Regions from separate parts of the Homo sapiens genome. Here region 2 is linked to region 1. Evidence: fine-mapped expression QTL. A gene starts in region 1. The other region holds a variant in brackets. All regions are shown on one strand. Distances are between the middles of the regions.

Region 1 (2,914 bases):
ACCTTTACCACAATTAAAATATTTTAAATTCACCCTATTATGAAAACTTAATAATAAATTCATTTATCCTTAAGTGTAAGAGTAATACATATTCGACACAGTAAAGGACAATGCCATTTCTGAAACAAAAGATCATGTGCAATGAAAACAAAGTAACATTTTGCAGAGTAAGAAAAAGTAAAGAGCCTGTGAACCGAAACAGATGACCTTTTCTTATATATAAAGCTTCAGTTTTTAGCACAACCAGCACCTTATGAATAAAGTTCTCAATAACATTTGTTGATATACTGTTTGATGACTAAACGACAGGAATATTGTTGGTGCTGTTAAAACCAAGGCACATTTCCTTGTGTGTAGTGATTAAAATCTGTTAAATGTACATTTTTAAAAAACCTCTGCCCTCTGTCCCCTTCTTGCTCTCTTGCCTCTAACAGACCTGCACGTACAAAAATAAAAGTAGATGGTGACGTGAGTTTATGATTTACATTAATTTCCCTACTCGGAGCATTTTTCACTAAGTCTTTAGAGGTTTTAAGATTCAAACACTATGTAAGAAGAATTATGGTTTGAACTACGTAACAATTACCTAGACATCTTTTGGACTTCAGTTAACCTGTAAGTAAAATGAGCATCTTTAACTTTTCCACGGGGCTTTGGAGAACGGGTTCTTCCTCATAAACGCTTTCATATACTCAGACACGAGGCGCGGTAGAAGATCAAGCGTATCCATCAATTTGAGAGCTTTTCACGACCTCAGTTTACCCACTTAGGGAAACGGGCGTATTAACTTGTTTCCTAGGGGACCCGGGGGTGAAATTAATTAGCGTGTTTAAAATGCTCTGAGATCCAAAGATGAAAGGAAATGTGAAAGACGCGCAGAGATGATGACAACAATCATAACAATAAAAAGAATGACTAACTTGAAGTCTGCGTTATGTAAGGGAGGAAAAGAAGTTATCAGATCCGCACAAACAAAAGGGAAACCCACCGCCCCTTTTGTTTCTCCCATTTCCCTCTCCTCCCCGCCACCCGCAGAGCTCCCCTCTCGCAGCCGGAGCGCGCGGCCAGCCAGGCGCGGGGCTCGGAGTTGGCCGCCGCGCGCCCCGCTCCCGGGCGGAGGGGGAGGCCGCGTAGGGCCGGTTCCTGACAAAGGCGCTTCCTCGAGCCAGGGCGCGGGATGCAGGCGCCGCAAACTCCGCTCCCCGCCGCAGCGGGGGCGCGCAGGCGGGCGGGGAGAGCCGGCTGCTGGCCGCCGGGGAAGCCGCCGAGGAAGTTGCGCGCCCGCCCTCCCCGCGCCCCTCGGCGGCCCCGCCGCCATCCATCCCGCGGCGCCCCGCGGTCACACTTACCGGACAATTGCTGGTGGCCGGGATCCCAGAGCGGCCCCCGAGACCCGAGGCGAGAGGGTGAAGTGTTGTGCGCGGGGAGCGCGAGCAGACAGCCCGCCGTTCCGCCGCTGCCCTCCGCGCCCGCCAGCCGAGCCCAGCGAGGGGAAGTTGACCACGGAGCCGAGCGCTGAGGAGCCGCGGACGCAGGGAGAGGCGTTGGGGCTGCTTTGTGGTGCGCTCCCGGAGGGCTGGGGACCAATTCGACCGCACCGCGGGACTAGGGCTGCTGCCGCTGCTGCTAGTGGAGGCGGCGGCGGCGCCCCCCGACGGTCCCTCCGCCTCACACCGCCTCTGGGTCACTGACATACACTCGCAAGGAGGGGAGGGGTCTAGCCGGGGGGCGGGGCCTGAGGGAGGGGACCGGGCAGGGCCACAGCGGAAGGCGGTGTCGCCGCACCGAGAAGGCTCTTGGGAATTGTAGTTCTCCGGTTGAAGAAAAAAGGGATTCATTGTTGTCCAGCACCCTACCAGGCTCGCTCTGCACTGAGCATGCTCGAGGGCGAGGTTTGGACCGCCCCCTCCCACCGTTACCATGGTCACCGACACACTTAGCGAACGTGTTCAGTGCTGCTGTTGGCTGAACAAGGACGGTCTTGTATTATGGTGTTGTTGGGGATCCAACCCTTAGACGGTCCTTCCTACTTTTCTCCACCTCCAACTCCTAGCCTTACCAGTCATAAGTACCCAGTGAGGTCTGACTTTCTCTCCATATTTCAGTCTTCCCTGCTGCGTAATTTATCTTCCACAAACCCTAAATCACAAATACCTCTGTCCCTCACTTCCCTCAATTGAATCTTCTCCGGCTAAATTCAATTTTCTTTACCTAAGACTTGTCGAAATGTAGTTGTTTCCAGTAATTGAACAATTAGGTTATAAAACTTAGGAATATCACCACTATCAAAGTCCCGTAATTAATTACTTTGCTCAGTTAGTCACATCTAACTTTAAGATTAGCAAAGGCAAAGTACAGAATTAAGACCCCTATATTTTACTTGATTACTATAAAAGAATCCGGGTTCGTTCATTTTAAGGCCTACAATTTTTAAGACATACAAATTTCATAAAGTATACGTTCAAAAGACAAGTTGAAAATTGTTTATGTGTATTGGCCAACTTTAGTTTGGTAATAAGAGAAGTCTGAACCAAGGTATGAGTATGTTGTTGGGCTGGTCAGCTAAGTCTACACCCATCTTGGGCACCCAGGTGTGGAAAGGTGGTAGGGAGGAGGGTGGAGAAAGGCAGGACACATTACTGGCTCTCCGGAGAGCTAAAGGCAACGCGTCCTGAGCGCTTTTGTTTTCCTTCTCCACCTACCTAGAACCCCACACCCTGGAAGAAAAAGATTAATGCTTAGGAATCAGACACACTTTTGGAGCAAGGCTTTCAGAGAGTCTCAAGATCAGAAATCCTTATATCTACAGACTATATAATTATACACTCATTCAAAAAATGCTTGTTGAGTGTCTACTTGTGCTAGGCACTGTTTTGAGCCCCAGAAATAGAGATACAAAAATGTAAAAGAAACA
Region 2 (2,914 bases), 130 kb after region 1:
CACATGCCACCACGCCCGGCTAATGTTTTTGTATTTTTAGTAGAGACGGGGTTTCACTGTGTTGCCCAGGCTGGTTTCAAACTTCTGAGCTCAGGCAATCCGCCCACCTCGGCCTCCCAAGGTGCTAGGATTACAGACGTGAGCCACCGAGCCCGGCCGACTTGTTTTTAAATCAATTACCAAATTCCCACTGCTATCTAAAATGACACAGCCACTGCTATCTATTGGGTCCTAGCCCAAAAGACTGTACCCAAGAGACTCTGCCACTCACACAGGAGAATGTAATCTTTAACTAATTAGGTTAGGATGCACAAAAAAGTGTGGGAGGCTGGACGCTAATATAGCTTAGACTTGAGGAAATGCCAGGGTGATGGGTAACTTGCTCCATGTGTTACTTGCAGGCTTCAGACCTGCCAGATGTGCATCTCATAGGCATTTCAAATCACACCATCACCTGCCCCTGCAAAGCTGTTTTGCTCTCTTACCCTCTCTCCTGCCCTGCTGTCTCTCTCTCTCTCTCTCTCTCTCTCTCACACACACACACCCCTTAGTGTTGTGCTTTCTTTTGTTAACTCTTTTAATCAGACTTTGATTTTCTAGATCTGTATGTTTCAATTAAATCCTAGTCTCTTTTGGACATTGAACTTGCAGAAGTTTTTTCCTGTATCTTCAGTTCTTGGTTCTTCTGATAAGTGCCTAAGGAGAAACAAATAAACAAACATGAACAAAGAGATAAACAGCAAAAACCACTCCCGGAGGCCTTCACATGGAACCCATTCATTATGTAACAACAAAAGGCCCCAAACAACTGCAGACCAGCATGACATATCGATGACTTATTCTTTTTAATATTAATGACAGTCTGAAGGAAGTTGTGGTGACAAGTCAGGGATTAATACTGCTATCTCTTTATGAATATCTGATCTATTAACACCACTGGGCTTAATGGGATTCATGAGTCTCAGTCACTGTCATGTCATTGCCCATATTGTGCAATCAGAGATCAGTTTTGCAATGGCTGATAAAAACAAAGGCCCAGAACCAAGGAGTTCCAGCAGAGAGGAAGGAAATGAAGCTTCCTGCTGGCTGAAGCTGCTCACCCAAAAGAAAGGGAATTAGATAAAGTGAAAGGTATTTCTCAGAGATGGGCCCAAAGCTGCTTCTGTTTCCTTGTGGCCTCAGGCTGGCTCTAGCTAGTAGGACACCATGACCCAGAGTAACTAAA[G/T]GGAATTATTGGCATCCTCCCACGAGCTCCTACCAGGCCAGTGCCAGAAACACTCATCTACTCCCTTATGGAAGATCACTGAGTCATGAGATCTGTGGTTTGTCTGATTCTCCACTTCCCGAAGCCAGCCAAGGCTAACCGACCTGGGATTCTGAGAGACTGTCCAGGTGAGCTCGGGTGCTTCAGTAGCAACTGGCCTTCTGGGTGTGCCCCAGAGCAATTCTGAGTCCAGAGATCGTTTCTGGCACCACCCTCAGCTCTCTCAGGGTTCTGGGAACCCAGTGATCAGAGGCTGGCTGGCTGTGAGATGTTCTTTCTCTTACCCTGTGGTGGGCTCCACATTGCAGTCACTTCATGCCTGCTGCTAAAAACCTAGGCCAGGCTTATTACCTTTCATCCAGACCAGAACTGAAAGCAGTTTCCATCTCCTGGGCCAATTCCAACTAATTGGTAGTGGCTGCCCGAGCACTGTGTAGAGAAAGATTTTGAGTTCAGCAGCAGAGTGTGGTTGTCCATTGGTGACGATTGCCAGAGGCACAGGTGGGTCACTGCAACTTGCATTCTGTGTGTTTACTAATTCTGATCTGGACCATTACATCAGCCTGCTAAGTGGTGCACTTACCTCTATTTCCTTCCAGAAAAAAAGATTAATCTTCCAGAAGCATTCTTTGATAAGAGCCTTATCAAAAAAAATTTCAACTCCACTCCACTTTAGCAACTCAGACCTGTTCTACATTTGTGATCAATCCTTCTCTCTCTCTCTAGCATATATATACACACATATGTAATTATATATACACATACAATTCTATATAATTATATATGTATGTATATGTATACATGTGTGTGTCTTCTGTGACTCTTGCCAGCAACCTCAACCCACTTTCCCCTTCCTTTTGCTATGTCAGTCTTGCAAACCTTTCTCTGTGAATCAGTTTTCTCTGTGAATCATTTTCCCTCTTTCTTCCTACTCAAGGACTCCTGAAGGAGGCTAGAGGAATACACACTCTTGTGGTTTGGGTTCTACACAACCTGGGGCCTCTGACCTCGGCTGGGTTCTTAGCACAGTGACCCCTCACAGGCCCCTGGTCAGCATCCTTTCCTCCTGTTCTGTTTCTCTCTCATCTTAAACCCTCACTGCTGTGTTGCTGTCCCCTCCCCAACCATGACCACCTTTCTCTTGGCAGACCACCAAGGCTCCTGTCTTAGTCATAGTCTATATTTTATCATAGAATTATAGAATTCTGTAGTCATGCAGGTGCATGGCTACACCATGCCTGGCTAATTTTATGTAGTTTTAGTAGAGATGGGGTTTTGCCATGTTGGCAAATTCTATAATTCTATAATAAATTGTAGAATTTATTCTATAATAATAATTTATATTTATTAATTAAATATTTATAATAATTATAATTCTATAATAAATTCTATAATTTATTATAGAATTATGGTGTTCTATAATAAAACACCATAGACTGGGTAGCTTAAAAACAGACATTTATTTCTCACAGTTCTGGAAGCTGGGAAGTTCAAGATCAAGGTGCCAGCAGATTTGATTCCTAGTGAGGACCCATTCCTGCTTGCAGATGGCCTTCTTCTCACTGTGTCCTCACCTGGCAGAGCAAGAGAGGGCTCTGGTTTCTTCTTCTTATAAGGGCACCAATCTCCTTATGAGGGCTCCACCCTGAT

What was found.
Region 2: its variant is fine-mapped to the expression of PELI1 in whole blood (INTERVAL, PIP above 0.99).

What each region holds. Positions count from the first base shown.
Region 1 is chr2:64,142,732-64,145,645 of GRCh38, forward strand. PELI1 (pellino E3 ubiquitin protein ligase 1) reads right to left here and starts at 1,689. Exons shown (of 7, transcript NM_020651.4): 1 at 1,350-1,689. RefSeq lists silencers at 1,137-1,206, 1,217-1,286, 1,427-1,496, 1,577-1,766, 1,857-1,916.
Region 2 is chr2:64,272,656-64,275,569 of GRCh38, forward strand. No RefSeq gene overlaps it. Among named protein-coding and RNA genes, the nearest start is that of MIR4433A, 67 kb to the right of the region's middle. RefSeq lists an enhancer at 1-81. The variant G/T (reference allele first, on the strand shown) is at 1,226.